Linked DNA regions of Homo sapiens: region 2 is linked to region 1. The links come from fine-mapping of genetic effects on gene expression. Tissue or cell type: whole blood. Region 1 holds a variant in brackets; the other region holds the start of a gene. All regions are shown on one strand. Distances are from middle to middle.

The links. PIP is the estimated chance that this variant, and not a neighbour inherited with it, causes the effect.
Region 2: it holds the start of PPP4R2, and the variant in region 1 is fine-mapped to the expression of PPP4R2 in whole blood (TOPMed, PIP 0.97).

What each region holds. Positions count from the first base shown.
Region 1 is chr3:73,062,669-73,070,823 of GRCh38, forward strand. It overlaps PPP4R2 (protein phosphatase 4 regulatory subunit 2), which reads left to right. Exons shown (of 9, transcript NM_174907.4): 6 at 1,005-1,079; 7 at 1,335-1,478; 8 at 2,184-2,473; 9 at 2,729-6,530. The coding sequence ends at 3,054. EBLN2 (endogenous Bornavirus like nucleoprotein 2) reads left to right here. Exons shown (of 1, transcript NM_018029.4): 1 at 1-669. The coding sequence ends at 232. Among named protein-coding and RNA genes, the nearest start is that of EBLN2, 5.1 kb to the left of the region's middle. The variant A/T (reference allele first, on the strand shown) is at 4,897.
Region 2 is chr3:72,992,029-73,000,213 of GRCh38, forward strand. PPP4R2 (protein phosphatase 4 regulatory subunit 2) reads left to right here and starts at 4,783. Exons shown (of 9, transcript NM_174907.4): 1 at 4,783-5,043; 2 at 6,049-6,130. The coding sequence starts at 5,010. LOC124909395 (a long non-coding RNA gene) reads right to left here and starts at 5,163. Exons shown (of 2, transcript XR_007095961.1): 1 at 5,079-5,163; 2 at 1,432-1,894. RefSeq lists enhancers at 4,408-4,457, 5,718-5,767 and a silencer at 4,638-5,267.

The sequences.
Region 1 (8,155 bases):
ATCAAGTGATAAGATTTGCACCAGCAGTCTCCAAGTTCAGAGACGATTCAAGGCAATGATGGCATCTATTGGAAGACTTTCACATGGTGAGAGTGCTGATCTGCTAATCAGCTGCAATGCAGAATCAGCCATAGGTTGGATCAGCTCAAGACCATGGGTTGGAGAATTAATGTTCACACTTCTATTTGGAGACTTTGAATCCCCTCTACACAAGCTACGCAAGTCAAGTTAGTTGCCAAGAAAGCACAGATGACAACCTATTAATGCTGTGAGAATGTTTCTAGATCAGTGCATGGATGGCTCCATTGCTCTACGGGCCATTGTGTCTGAGATCCCAGTCTTTGAGGAGAAAAAAAACAATGGTTAAAAAGGCATTGGGGAAATATTTTGAGTTTGGGGGTGTACTTTGCCACCCCATTATTGGGGAGCTGTCACCACGAATGTTCCCAAACTTAGCAACAGCGGCAAACTACTGGGCCAAGATGAGCAACCCCACATTTTTGGGATTTAAAGCTCCTGATGTTATACCAGGATCAACCATCACACTCCCTTTGCTTCAAATGGCATCTACCCCGTAAGATCTTGAGGGGGGAGTGTTGGGTGGAATCATAGATCCATGCACTCCTAACATGAACTAATTCTCATTATTTAAAAAAAAAAAAAAAAAAAAAAGTCCAGGTGTGGTGGCTTAACGCCTGTAATCCCAGCACTTTGGGAGGCCGAGGTGGGCCGATCACTTGAGGTCATGAGTTTGAGGCTAGCCTGGCCAACATGGCAAAACCCCGTCTCTACTAAAAATAAAAAAAATAGCTGCGCATGGCATCACACGTCTGTCATCCCAGCTACTTGGGAGGCTGAGGCATAAGAATTGCTTGAACCTGGGAAGTGGAGGTTGCAGTGAGCTGAGATTGCACCACTGCACTCCATTCCACCTTGGGTGACAGAGCCAGACTCCATCTAAAAAAAAATTAAGTCATCCACAAGTGTATTTTCTTTTCTTATAGGAAAAACAATTCCAATAGTTTAAATCGAATGAATGGTGTTATGTTTCCTGGAAATTCACCAAGCTATACTGAGAGGTGAGATTCTAGATTTTTAATACCTACAGAGTTTGCATTGTCCTGATTTTGAGTAGCAGGCTTAGTGTACTTTTTAAAAATTGGGCATTTTATGGACACCATAGGATGAACTACATAGAATTAGTTAATTTGGTAAGGCATGGGCCTGAAAACAAAGTTGCAGCAAATACTTCTGTGATGTATTCACATCAACATACCTTAAGAGGGATGACTTTTTATAAAAATAGGAAATGATGTTCATTTATCTTATTATAGGTCTAATATAAATGGGCCTGGGACACCCAGGCCACTTAATCGACCAAAGGTTTCTTTGTCAGCCCCCATGACAACAAATGGGTTGCCTGAGAGCACAGACAGCAAAGAGGCAAATTTGCAGCAAAATGAGGAGAAAAATCACAGGTTTGTATGTTTTATATTTAAAAACAGTGTTTTTATTAAAAGTTAAAGTTAACATTTAATCAGTACTTATCACTTACTATTTATAAGTTCTGAGGGACAGAACAAGGTTTTCATGCGGTTTATAGGAGCACTGGCTTCTCTTTGCAGCTGTAGCAAATGTTGAAGGTGGACATAGACAAGACTTAAAACTGCTAATTTGTGGAGACTGTTTATGTAGGGTCTAAAAGTAACGTAGATATGATGATCCATTTCATTTGTTGTTTCTGAAAGTTACTTGAAAAGAAATGATCTTTATAAATAAGTTGATTTTTGTGAGTCGTTTCTCATTGTAGTTCATAAAAGGACACCTTTTGTTTATATCTTCAAATTTTCTGTATCACATTAAGGGAAGGAAGACTAAATGAGGGAGAGGACTTAAGAGAGTATGTCCGTATGGAAGACTTGCGGGTTTATTGTAGGAGAATATTTAACTTACTGGAGAATTGCACAGAAAGGTCATATAGCTTTTCTGAGTCCTACTGGGAATTATTCATCAAACAGTTTAGTTTACCTTGAAATTATTCTCTTGTGTTTTTCTTTGTTCAGGTGTTATAATTTAACTTTGACACTGAAATACAATTTAAAACATTATTTAACCTTAAAAATGGGGATGTAGAAGATGGGGAAAATAATCTTATTAATGACACTTTAAAAAAACATTTACAGTGACTCTTCGACCTCTGAATCAGAAGTTTCCTCAGTGAGCCCTTTGAAAAATAAACATCCAGATGAAGATGCTGTGGAAGCTGAGGGGCATGAGGTAAAAAGACTCAGGTTTGACAAAGAAGGTGAAGTCAGAGAAACAGCCAGTCAAACGACTTCCAGCGAAATTTCTTCAGTTATGGTAGGAGAAACAGAAGCATCATCTTCATCTCAGGATAAAGACAAAGATAGCCGTTGTACCCGGCAGCACTGTACAGAAGAGGATGAAGAAGAGGATGAAGAGGAAGAAGAAGGTATTTAGAGACCATCTGTAAAAGGGTGGAGTAAGGAGATCCTCAAATTCTTGTACTTCATTTTTTTCGTGAAAGAATTTTACGTAATGGAACTCCTTATAATGCTGATGTTGGGCTTTTCTCCCACCTGTATGTAGTTGCTGCTGAATTTCAGGGGATGTGATTTGAACTATAGAATATCAGAATTCATGAAACTTAACTGTGGAGGTATTTTGAAAATACAATTTAACTACAACAACATTTGCTTATTTTTAGAGTCTTTTATGACATCAAGAGAAATGATCCCAGAAAGAAAAAATCAAGAAAAAGAATCTGATGATGCCTTAACTGTGAATGAAGAGACTTCTGAGGAAAATAATCAAATGGAGGAATCTGATGTGTCTCAAGCTGAGAAAGATTTGCTACATTCTGAAGGTAGTGAAAACGAAGGCCCTGTAAGTAGTAGTTCTTCTGACTGCCGTGAAACAGAAGAATTAGTAGGATCCAATTCCAGTAAAACTGGAGAGATTCTTTCAGAATCATCCATGGAAAATGATGACGAAGCCACAGAAGTCACCGATGAACCAATGGAACAAGACTAACTATTTAGAAACATTTAGATGCAGTATTTTACATACAGTTCTGGTTTTAACACTGTATAAAACTTTTGTGTAATAAAATGGACCTTTAGTTTTACAAGAGAAGCAGGTTGTAAAATAAAGTACTTTATGGATAATTCCTGAAAGAGTTGTACATGTAAGAACTGTGAATATCAGCTCCTCTGGGTCCTGCTTACCTTACCGCTGACTTTTCTTTCTTTCTTTTTTTGGTCTGGGCAAATCAGTGGTTTGTGTATAGATTTTTTTTTTTTTTTAATTTAGGATTGAAGTTTTTAAACTGGAAAGTAATTACAATTTTGAAAAGTTTTTTGAGATTATCACATTTAGTTTATACATATGCAAGAAGCTTTTTGTCTTGTCTCTTTCTGATAGCTCTAGCAGTTTTCATATTTTGGTCATAGTTTCAACATTTTAACATGTGAATTATAGGGTTTCATGCTGGTTTCCAGATTTTATTGTTTGGCTACGTACAATGGAACTTTAAGTCATATATACATACATATATATATATATATATATATAATTCTAAGGGGGGAAATGTTATATTTTTCTGTTTCTATAAGAGATGAATACAGTGGATACTTTTTCTATTGGTAATGATTGAGTTCACCTCTTTCAGAAGACATTTTCTTTCTCTTCTGAGTAATTGAAATAAAATCTGGCCCTTGTGAAACCCTGGAAATCTTAAGTCTGTTGAAATACCAGGTTAAACACATTCCAAGAGATCTGTTCAAACTCAAATTCTTTTGTATACTTCTGAGGTGCCTGAGAAAAAGACTTCATTATTTATGAGAAAATATGCTTTATCTTGGAAATTGTGTTCAAATGTTAGCTTACTATTTTGTAGAATGAATGTTTATGAAGCTGATATGAGACCATCTCAGAAGAACCAAGTAGGTTCCTTGACCTTTTGCTTGCTTTTCTGAACATTGTGAATATTACACATGTCTTTCTAAATTATTCTAGGGTATGCAAATGTCAATGGTATGAAACACCACTGTACTGGAAGAATTAATATATTACTTTAGTATGTACCTGAGCTAAATGACTGAAGCTTTAGGGGTGCATAGAAACCACCATAATTTGTATGACATTTTGAAGTGAATTAAATATTTTTGAACATGCTTCTTCGACAGCCAGTGTTATATTTTTCAGATCAACACAAAGCACAATGATTACTCGAAATTCAGTATTTTCAAATTTACATATTTAAAGTCATGCAAGCTGTAACTTCCCTGTCAAAATTACTGGCTGCCAAATTTATACCTGTTTCTTCAGCTGTACCTTTTGATATTTAAAGTTTTTAAATTTCTGTAAAGTAGATTTTGTAGAATGTAATGTGTTCACTGCCTTTGTGAAGCGGTATATAATTGTATAATTTCTGTGTGTAAACTGAATGCTTGGGCTTTCAATACAGTATTCATATAAAGCAATAAATATTAATGTTATGAAATATTTGACTACATTTTTATCAAAATATGAAAGAATCCCCCCTTTTTTAGTTTCAGATACCTGAACTACACAGATGAGCTTCTAAAACTGATGCAAACAGTTTCTGACACTGTATAATATGCTTTTGGGTGATTTGGGGGGCAACCACAAGTTTTGCGTTTTGACTACTTAAATCATCATGGCTATAAATACCAAAACGATTTGGATCCATTTATGTTTGTAGGATAATATACTACTGACTGACTTGACTGTCAGGTTCACAACAGCTAGATGATATATTTATGACTATGTCTAATAGTTGAAATAAAATCTGAATATTGATTTACTATACCCAAGAGGGGAGAAAAATTAACCATTGTAAATTTTTAAAAA[A/T]TTTTTCAAAAATGTTAAAATGAGGCAAATTTAAGTTTACAAATTTTGAAATTTTCTTTTGAATATTTATGAAATTGTCAGTAAACTTACCTAAGATCCTGTGACCTTTTGATATTTTTTATTTTAATTGTAGTGCCATGGACCATTTGTAAACAAATTGATTTACTTTTGTTGGTTGTAAGTTGAAGATTTAGCATTATGACTTTGAGGTCTGTGGTTTTATTTGTAAACTTGCAATTGCTATATTTGCAAGGGCAAATGTATTTCTTTATTAAATAAAGTACAATAATGGTGAATGTACCAAAATGACATCACTTAACTCTATGAGAGATCTGCATTTTAATCTATAGTTTAATAGTTTTAATATTTATTAGATATTCATATGTTGATCATAGATCAAACTTGTTGCTGTTTATACAGATAATTGTAGAATGCTCATGGAATATCTTTAGGGTAGGTGGAATACTTCTGTAGTTAAATTGGGAAACCTTGTTCAGCTGGTTTTAGATATTGATGGCCATTTGGAAGTAAATTTCCGCAGGTATTCATAGGTGCACTTAACACAGACTTTGCTTAATGAAAATGTCAGTTCTAATAGTAACTGATTCACTTCTGAACAGAAGTGATTTTAGGCATATTTCTTAACATATATCAAGCAAAGTCCTGTTAAAAGATCTAAATGAAGAATGGAGACCTCAGTGATTAAAGATATTTTGTTTCTGACCTTGAGCAGATTGCTTACCTGTTCTCTAGACTATAACCCAACATGTAAAAAAAATTTGAAGATGGTGATGAGGAAAGTGAGATATATATATATATATGTATTATGTTTCTAGCACTTTTCCCTTTTAAAAAGTGAAAATATCCTTGTACATTTTTGAAAAATATATTTTCAGTTCTGAAAAATGTAGCAGAAGTAGTGAAAATGTCATATTTTAAATGTTGATTATTAGATAAATTTAACCTGCTTAGGGTTTATTGTAACTACACCTTTCAGACGTGTGTTTTGGAGTAGTGGAATTGCCAGCCAGGCCCTGTGGCTTGGAAAGGCATCCCAGAAATCCTCGGCCAGAAGGTGTGGCTTGTTAAAGCATTGAGATTCAGAGTATTTTGTTTTGCCGGTGTAGATAGGCATGTATTTATGCATTTTTGCATTTGTAAAATCAACTTTTCAAATAATGTAAATGTAATATACTAGTTTACTTAAAGGTACTTGGGCAGAATCTAAAGCTGCTACAATGTTTGATTATGAAAAAAATGTAACATGGTAAGGATGAAAATGCAACTTACAAAACCAAAGGAATTAAAAATTTTCGGTAGTGTTTCAAATTGTCTTCTGAACAGGAATTTAACATTGGTTTTGATGAAGGTGAGGGTCAGTTCTCAAGATTTGTGCTAATCATAAAATGAATGAATGCAAAACACCTTGTAATTTCATATGGAATTATAAAAATTAGGTTTGCTGGGTTTTGGCCTAATAAGAGTGCTAGTATGTATTGGTTAGACTACATCTTACTATTTCACATTTTAAAAATCAGTACACTCTTCAGGATTTTCTTTTATTTCAACTTGGAGCCTAGATTACTTTGCCAAATGTATTATTTTCATAATGCAATAAAATATAAATTAGAATATTTCTATGTGTGTAATTATTTTATGTGCCATAATGGTTTATTTGCCCTGCTGCCACTCCGACTCCCCCCCAACCCCCCCAACCCCCCCCGACCCTGCGCCACCACCCACCTCAAATCCTTAACTGAGGAAACTCAATGTGTGACTTTGTTACAGCCCTGTTTCTTACATGGTGACAAAGTGTTCCAGCAGGACTTGACAGTTGTGGTTCTTTGCCAGGCAAGTCATGCTGATTGTCAACAAAATCCAGATTTAAATAAGTCTCCACTGGTATAATTTGGCACTAGCTTACATGTATATATTTACAATATTTGTGTTAATCATTTTAAAGGCTGGGCGCAGTGGCTCACGCCTGTAATCCCAGCACTTGAGGCCAAGGCAGGTAGATCTCTTGAGGCCAGAAGTTCGAGACCAGCCTGGCCAACATGATGAAACCCCGTCTCTACTAAAAATAACAAAAATTAGCCAGGTGTGGTGGTGGGCACCTGTAATCCCGGCTACTCAGGAGGCTGAGGCAGGAGAATTGCTTGAACCTGGGAGGCAGAGGTTGCAGTGAGCCGAGATCACACCACTGCACTCCAGCCTGGGCGACAGATCGAGAGTCCGTCTTTAAAAATAAAAAAAATCATTTTTGAAATCCCACCTTCAGGCAACTACATGGTAAGAAGTGTAGAATTACCTGAAGTGGAGAGGAGGGTTCTGTTTTCAACTGTGGGTCTCCTTTCCTATGCTTCTTTTTGTTTTTGTTTTTGGGACGGAATCTTCCTCCGTTGCCCAGGCTGGAGTGCAGTGGTATGATCTCGGTCTCGGCTCACTGGAACCTCTGCCTCCCGGGTTCAAACAATTCTCCTGCCTCAGCCTCCTGAGTAGCTAGGACTACAGGCATGCACCACCATGCCCGTCTCATTTTTGTATATATATGTTTTTCGTAGAGATGGGGTTTCACAGTGTTGGCCAGGGTGGTCTTGAACTCCTGACATCAGGTGATCTGCCCGCCTCAGCCTCCCACAGTGCTGGGATTACAGACATGAGCCACCATGACTGGCCCTCTAGGCATATTATCGCACAGTAGCTACAGTAGAGGGTAAGATCTGTGGCTCTGAACTAAGGAGAGTACTAGTCGGTGTGTTTCTAACCTTAAGAATGTCTTAGTTTTCAGCTTCTCATATTTGATCTCTTACCCCCACTTAATTTTGTTTACTAAATAGTATAACTAGTACGTAGTTCAGGGCTAATGATGGGAAGACTGATTTTTCCACTGGCTAGGAATAAACTGCGTGAACTCTTCCCTATTTAAAATGAAGAGTATGCAATTCCCTTTTATTCTTCAGAACGTTTTAAGTTTAAACTTTAGCAGTAGTTTGTCATCTTTAGGTTTTGTTTGTACATTTTCAGAGTTTTTCTTCCCATAACTAAAAGTAATGAATATTCCAAAATGCCAGCAATTCCCTGTATACTAGTCTGCCATCTCCACTGTTTTACTCATCTTTGTAACCTCACAGGCTAGCCCCATGCTTGACAAGTGATAACAAAATTGAAAGCAAGTGGTAGGTCCACAGCCCACTTTAGATTCCTATGTTTTACCGATTCTGTGTCTACTTTGCCCACTTCAAGTGTGCTAAGGTCA
Region 2 (8,185 bases), 71 kb before region 1:
TCTCTTCCTGGAAGAAATTTTGCAGGCCTCTGAATATCTGATACACAGCTTTGCCTTCTACCTTGCATGAGGGCCTACACTTACATCTTATCTTTCCTAGTATTTTGCAAACTTCTTGAGGACAAGAAAGTGTTTGGGGGCTCTGAAGCCAGTCTAGGTTTGAATCATGGGTCAGTCACCTGCCTATGTAGTTGTGTGATTTTGTGCAAGCAATTTCACCTCTTTATATTTCCGTTTTCTTTCTTTCCCTTTCTTTCTTTTTCTTTCTTTCTTTTCTTTTCTTTTCCTTCTTTCCTTCCCTCCCTCCCTCCCTTCTCTCTCTCTCTCTCTCTCTCTCTCTCTTTCTTGAGTTTCGCTCTTGTCACCCAGGCTGGAGTGCAGTGGCGTGATCTTGGCTCATTGCAAGCTCTGCCTCTTGGGTTCAAGCAATTCTCCTGCCTCAGCTTCCCGAGTAGCTCGGATTACAGGCGCCCACCACCACGCCCAGCTAATTTTCATATTTTTAGTAGAGATGGGGTTTCATCACGTTGGCCAGGCTGGTCTCCAGCTTCTCACCTCAGGTGATCCACCCGCCTCGGCCTTTCAAAGTGCTGGAATTACAGGCGTGAGCCACTGTGCTGGGCCTCTATATTTCAGTTTTCTTTTCTGTTAAGTGAGGAGGATCCTCATAGGATTTTGTGAGGATTCAATTAAATACTTTTGTAAACTGCTTAGGAGACACTTTTTGATAGTTTTGTAAACTGCTTAGGAGAATGCCAGACACATGAAAGTATTTAATAAATATTAGCTGTTACTATTAAATTTCTTATTTGTTGCATTAGTTTCTAAAATTTAGAGGCTTAGAACAGTTATAGACATTGTCACCTTTTACAGTTTCTGTGGATCAGGTATTGGGAAGTGACTTAGATGGGCTGCTCTAGTGTGGGATGTCTGCTAAGGTTGTGATCCAGATGTCAGCTGGGGCTGCAGTTACCTGAAGGAATTCCTGAGGCTGGAGGATCCACCTTCAAGGACAGTTCTTCTCTCTGTGGGGCCTTTCCACAAGACTGTCTAATGTTCTCATGACATGGCAGCTGGCTTCCCCCATTGAGGCCCCATTTACCAATTCAAGAGGCCAAGGCAGAAGCCCTAGTGCCTTCACACAGACAGCTGTGATTTGGTGTGCCTGATTATACTAGGGCATGAATCTCAGCAAGTGAGGATCATGAGGGGTAATTGTGGGGGCTGGTTGCCACATTTGTATTCTGTTTTCTTCCCAGGAAATCGGCATCAGTAGGAGGCTTATTATTCTATTTTTTATTTTTGAGTCAGGGTCTCACTATGTTTGTGGCCCAGGATGGATTACAGTGGCATGATCCCGGCTCACTGCAGACTTAAATTCCTGGGCTCAAGTAATCCTCCTAGCCTCCCAAGTAGCTAGTACTACAGGTGTGCGCCACTACCCCTGGTAATTTTTTATTTTTTGTAGAGACATGTTGCTGGGCTGGTCTCAAGTGATCCTCCAGCCTTGGCTTCCCAGAGTACCGAGATTACAGGTGTGAGCCACCATGCCCAGCCAGTAGGAGGCTCTAGTAATTGCAGACATTGTGATACAGGCCGGCTGGAGAAGAATTCAAGGAAGAAGGAAGGAATGAACCAAACGAAGTTATTTTTTCAGCCTCATCTTTTGCCTCTTCTCCCCTTGTAATCTTGACTTCCAGACACTGGATAAGGTCTATGACGGGCGACAAAGTGCACACAGCAATGACAGCCTAAGGGAATCGTGGAAAGTGTACCAGAGGAAGTGGTGTTTAAGTAGAGATCTGAATTTGCAGAGGAATGTAGCAAAGTGCATTGGAGAGGAGGAGCTAACCAGAGGGGCACAAGCCTTGATTATCTGAAGACCAGGTGGGATCTGAAAAACCATAAGAAATTCAGTTAAGCTGACAGCAATGAAAGGGACAAAACAGTGTTAGAAATTAGCATAATGTGTTCTCCAACAGAAAGTTCCAATAGAACTTTTTGCAATAATGAAATTTTCTTTATCTGAACTATCCAATACAGGAGCCACTAGCCACATGTAGCTACTGAGCACTTAAAATGTGGCTGGTGTGACCAAAGAATTGGATTTTTAGGCCAGGGGCGGTGGCTCACACCTGTAATCCCAGCACTTTGGGAGGCTGCGGCGGGTGGATCACAAGGTCCAGAGTTCAAGACCAGCCTGGACAATATGGTGAAACCCCGTCTCTACTAAAAATACAAAAATTAGCTGGGCGTGGTGGTGGGAGCCTGTAATCCCAGCTACTCGAGAGGCTGAGGCAGAGAACTGCTTGAACCCGGGAGGCACAGGTTGCAGTGAGCTGAGATCACGCCACTGCACTCCAGCCTGGACGACAGAGCAAGACTCCGTCTCAAAAAAAAAAAAAGGAAAAGAAAAAAGAAAAAAAAAAGAATTGGATTTTTATTGAAGAACTCAGGAACTGAATTTTAAATTTTATTTAATTTTAATTAATTTAAATTTCAATATTCACACATGGCTAATATCTACTGTACAGCAGAGCTCTTACAGTAAGAGACCCTTCTGAATAGTAGAGTGGCAGATAGAAGGAGAGGCTAAGCTTTGCCATGTAGGCAGTAGGCCCTTTCAGACTGGAAGGGACCTGGATAAACTAAACCTGGTGCCTGGCAAGTGCTGGCCAAGTGCTTGATGTGCTACCCTATTCCCTCTCTCTGCAAGGATATTTGTAATTGAGCTAGATGCTCTGAACAACGAAGGTCTAAAGACACAGGGGACTGGTTCTCTGATGGCACAATTTGAGAGAGCTATTTTGGGTGTGAATGTCTTTTGCCTACATCTACCACCTAGGATCAGGGTCAGACCCACTGTCTTTTAAGAGGGTCAACAGTGTAAAGGCTGTGTCCAAACTTGCATCTTCTTAGACCAAACAATAACCTTCCTTCCCTCCCTTGGTCCTTCTCTCCCCTCCTTCCTTCCATGACTTTGTGCTATGCTGGGTTTTGGGAAGAGGAGGTGGAACAACGCAGTACCTTTTCTTTTCTTTCTCTCTCTCTCTTTTTTTTTTTTTTTTTTTTTTTTTTGAGACGGAGTCCCATTCTGTCGTGCCCAGGCTGGAGTACAGTGGCTGGAGTATCTCGGCTCACTGCAACCTCAGCCTCCAGGGTTCAAGGGATTCTCCTGCCTCAGCCTCCCGAGTAGCTGCGATTACAGGTGCCCGCCACCAAGCCCAGCTAATTTTTTTTTTTTTGTATTTTTAGCAGAGACAGGGTTTTGCCATGTTGGCCTGGCTGGTATCAAACTCCTGACCTCAGGTGATCCGCCTGCCTCAGACTCCCGAAGTGTTGGGAATACAGGTGTGAGCCACCGTGCCCGGGCAGTACCTTTTCTTTTAAAAGCTCACAGATGAGTATAAAAATGTCCACGCACTGGCTGGGAGCCAGATGATTTGGGTTCTGGGTTCTAGTTCTGTCTCCCCAGACTTGCTGTCTGTGACACAGCTTTCCCATTTGTAAAATGTCAGGGCTGCAGAGGACTTCTGAGGTTTCCGCCCTCTCCTACCTCCTGGGAGATTATGTCATGTAATAATGCTAACAGTGGTAATAAAAACCCAGCCACGTTGAGTGTTCCAGGTTTCACGCACTGTGCCAAATGTTTCACATTTGCCATTTCACTCAATCCTCGTGGCCGTTTTACAACCCTCATTTTATAAATAAGAACCCTGAAGCTGCCTGAGTTTAGGTAACTACTTCAGGGCCACACAAGGAGTAAGTAGTTGAGTTGGGATTTGAATATTGATTCCAAACCTTGAGCTCTTAATGACTTTGCTGTATACATTACTTCTTGCCACAGGTGGGCCAGTGACGAACGAACGTTGGGTTAAGCAGGGAGGTATTCTTGTTAGGATTATTAGCAATGCTTAGTGTATGTATGTATTGTTAATTTTATTATTATTTTTTTGAAACAGTCTCGCTTTGTCGCCTAGGCTGGAGGCAGTGGCGCGATATCGGCTCACTGCAACCTCCGCCTCCTGGATTCAAGCGATTCTCGTGCCTCAGCCTCCCGAGTAACTGGGATTACAGGCACGAGCGACCACGCCCGACTACATTTTGTATTTTTAGTAGAGACGGGGTTTCGCCATGTTGGCCAGGTTGGTCTTCAACTCCTGACTTCAGGTGCTCCGCCCGCCCCAGCCTCCCAAAGTGCTGGGATTACAGGCTTGAGTCACCGCGCCCGGCCTGTATTTATTTTTATATAGAGAAGGGCGAGGGAGCGGGGTCATTTTGTTACCCAGACTGGTCTCGAACTCCTGGGCTCAAGCGATCCTCTCGCCTCGGCCTCCCTCCCAAAGTGTTGGGATCACCGGCCTGAGCCCCCTGCCCGGCCTCGCTCTACGTTTTTTAGGCGCATTCTGAACGTGAAGTGTATACACTGAATTCTCACAGCAACTGCATAGGGCATCAGTACCAGTGCCCTTACTGTACAGATGGGGAAAATGAGGCTCAGACAGGCGAAGTAAGTAGCTTAAGTTCACACAGAGAGGAAATGGCAGGGATTCAAAGCCTAGGAGTCCGCCTGCAACCCTCTCGCCTGACCGTCCAGTCTTCAGCTCCGCGGAGCCTGGGCCTGGGGCTGGGGCTGGGGCTGAGGCTCTGGAAGCCGCCGGGACGCAGACGCCACTGGGCCCCAGCGTCACACCTCGGCCGCGCACGCGCTCTCGGGTTCCGGGCCGGAGCGCGCGGCGGGAGCGAGGACGGCGGCAGGGAGCGTGCGCGCGGTGACGTACCGGGCGCCATGTTGGAGGGTTGGTGGTAGCGGCTTGGGGAGGTGCTCGCTCTGTCGGTCTTGCTCTCTCGCACGCTTCCCCCGGCTCCCTTCGTTTCCCCCCCCCGGTCGCCTGCGTGCCGGAGTGTGTGCGAGGGAGGGGGAGGGCGTCGGGGGGGTGGGGGGAGGCGTTCCGGTCCCCAAGAGACCCGCGGAGGGAGGCGGAGGCTGTGAGGGACTCCGGGAAGCCATGGACGTCGAGAGGCTCCAGGAGGCGCTGAAAGGTGGGGGTAGCTGCCCCCTCTCCATTCCCCCTCACCTTCTCCGGCTCGCTCTTCTCTCCTTTCAGGGCGGATGGTTCCGAGGACCGGGGCCGGGCGCGGCGTGGGGAGAGTGCTTCCCGGGCTCCCATCCCCCTCCACCTCCCCAGGGGCGGGGAGCCCTGTGGGCAGCTCTCTCCCGCCCCGCTCTGGCTTTGTGTCGGCCGCCGGCGTCTGGGCTGGGGGAGGGGAGCCGGGGAAACTCTTGCGGGGGCCCCAGTCTTTCTCCCACCCGTTCAGGGGACGAGTGGCGGACCCGCAGACCCCTCCCTCCCAGATATCCTCTTTTCTCCACCAGGCTACCCGTACGCTAGGCGTTGGGGTGGGAGAAAAAGTAAACGGTTGGTGGGGGCGGGGGTAGGGGGTAGCATCGCAACTTTTAAGTTGTCTCAGTATGCCTTTTTCAGGGCTTTTGAAGTCATCTTTCCGCGCCCTAATTTCGAGGTGGTTGCCTTCACTGTTCTTGATTGCACGCCTTCCACGCAACAGGCTTGAGAACAGTGGCTTACAAACTTCGAGTAGAGAGATTTCAGCGTTTTGAGAATTATTCTTTGACATTCAGAATCATTTGGGGACGGCAACTTGGGGTAGTTGGTGCTTCTTAGAAAGGCAGATTTATGGACTTAGATGAACAATTGGTGGGAGTCGGGGCCTGGGGATTTTTATTTTCACTGGATTCCCAGCTTAATATAATGCTGGTGTTCCCCCGGACCACACTTCGAGAAGCACTGCGTTAAAAATGGTTTGTGAAGTTGAGTGCCCCCTTTAGGAGGATTCTTGTTATCTGTAAAGAGGGTGACATGTTGGAAGTAGAACTTGGAGGATTGAGGTGGTAATTTGGTTGAGAGGCCTTATTTTTTTAATTTTGTATTTAATTGATTTTTAATAAGGTAAAGGACTAGGAGGAAAGTTTGTTTTTAGAGCGCTTTTGAGAAAACTGATAACGTTTTTTTTTCTTCCTTCATCTAGATTTTGAGAAGAGGGGGAAAAAGGAAGTTTGTCCTGTCCTGGATCAGTTTCTTTGTCATGTAGCCAAGACTGGAGAAACAATGTGAGTTGAAAACATGCATTTGTCGTTATAGACCAGTGCATTATTAAGAATTGCTCAGGAAAGGGAAAAAAGTATATTTTGGGATAATTAAATAATTCATTCTAAATTGTAGAAGTCCTGGTCATTTAAATAATTTATATATTTACATTTAAAGAACGTATACGCTTACTTACTTTATACATGGTCTGTAACGGATTTTAAAAACCTGTGTATGTTAAAATTTTCTTTATAGCTAGGCTTTGGCACGCTTAGAGAATGTATTAGTCTTAACGAGCCAGAGAAAGGAAGAATGCCTATTCCATTATGACCCTTTTTGGCCATAACAAATAGGCTTATTCCTAGAATTTTGTGGCTTTGATTCTGTTTCAGAGTCTTGGTGGTATTTTCTCATATTGTCGTGTGTCCAGCCTTTTTTTGGTCATATTTGCATATGTAGGTGTTTAAAGTGTCACTTCTATTTATCGTCTGGAGGACTCTGTTATTATCTGACAAATTCCAGATGCTACAGTTTTGACTTGTAGACTTTCTAAGATAGCTGACTTGTTACATATGCTCAGCATTTTATTCAGCTCGTTTCCAAATGTTCTGAATCTGAAACTTACGCTATAAAGTTAGGGCTGTGTTCAGAAGGAACATTCCAGGTCATTGTTTTGCAGTTTGTGTGGTAGACACAATCTGGCTAAGTTTATTTGTAGACAACAGTGCATCTTTGATGACTTCTTTTTGTAGTCTTTGGGTGGGGGCTGGGGCAGCAGGAAAGGGGTAGGTTTCTATGGTTTCAATGTTAATAAGTGGGTTATCTGCCCAGTATGAGTGTAGCTTTCAGCAAGAATTGTATAATTTCTCTGGCTTTATTATTAGCAAGTGTTCATTTCTCACAAGATTTGCTTATTTGTAGTCTAGCCTTTTAACAACTAGCCTAATTTTAGAAAGAAAAAAACCTTTGCTGCCTCAGTGCTTGATTTAATGGTCATGCCTGCAAGCTGAGTCTCCTTAGTATTCTATTAAAATACACCAGTCATTTTGAGAACGTCAGTGTGATGTGTTCAATGTTGTATTTCTATTTATTACATTAAAAAATGGGACCCTCTGGGCGGGGGAAGTCATTTTTACCTTCGCATTAGGGTTTCATATAGAACATCTTGATTTAGAACAATGTAAAACTGTTAATTTGTGCTTATATAGATAAGCCTAAAAATGACCACATGCCATCTTTCAAAAATAAATTAATCCCTAAAACATAAATGCTTAGACTGCCACTATTCCTCTTGAATTGCTAGTCGGCACAGACTTAGCCCTGTCAACAATGTCAAGCCAAATAGCATTTTACTTTTGGCTGTTTTTTGATATACAAGATGATATCAAACTATTTGGAGATGAGTACTTAAAACGTCTTACTCAGTTTATCAGGTTTGTACACACTGCTTTCCCTTTTTGATAAAGTACATTGCCTATAAATGTATAAATAATTGAAAGTTTCTAAAAGATAGCTTTTTAATATCCTGTCTTACTGGAACACCAAGTGGCTGGGGAAGTTATCTGATTTTTTTTGGACAGTTATTTTATCCTGGTAGAAGAGGACTTAAAATTCCCAATCCTCCACCCCATATTCGGTGTTTATGTATTCACTAAGCATGTTTTGTACTGAAATGATTGGTGTAGTTAGATTCTTATATTCAATGGAATTTGGAAAATATTTTTTATTTTATTATGTAAATAGCAGCCAGTGTTTATGCATTTAGCTTTAAGCTTTGATTTCTTTTTATCAACATGGCATATCTTTGATACTGACATTTGCAGAGTTTCTGCTACCTATTTATGGCTAAACTAAGCTTTGTCTAGTATGTGAGATTGTAACGAGAGAATGAAAATGAAAATTTAAAGAACAGCAATTTAGACTTTTCTGATGTTTTAGGATGGGTGGATTGCTTAAGATAAGCATTTCCACCGGATGTGGTGGCTCATGCCTGTATCTCAGCACTTTGGGAAACAGTGGGTCACTTGAGCTCAGGACAAAAAATTTAAGTTACCTGAGTGTGTTGGTACATGCCTATA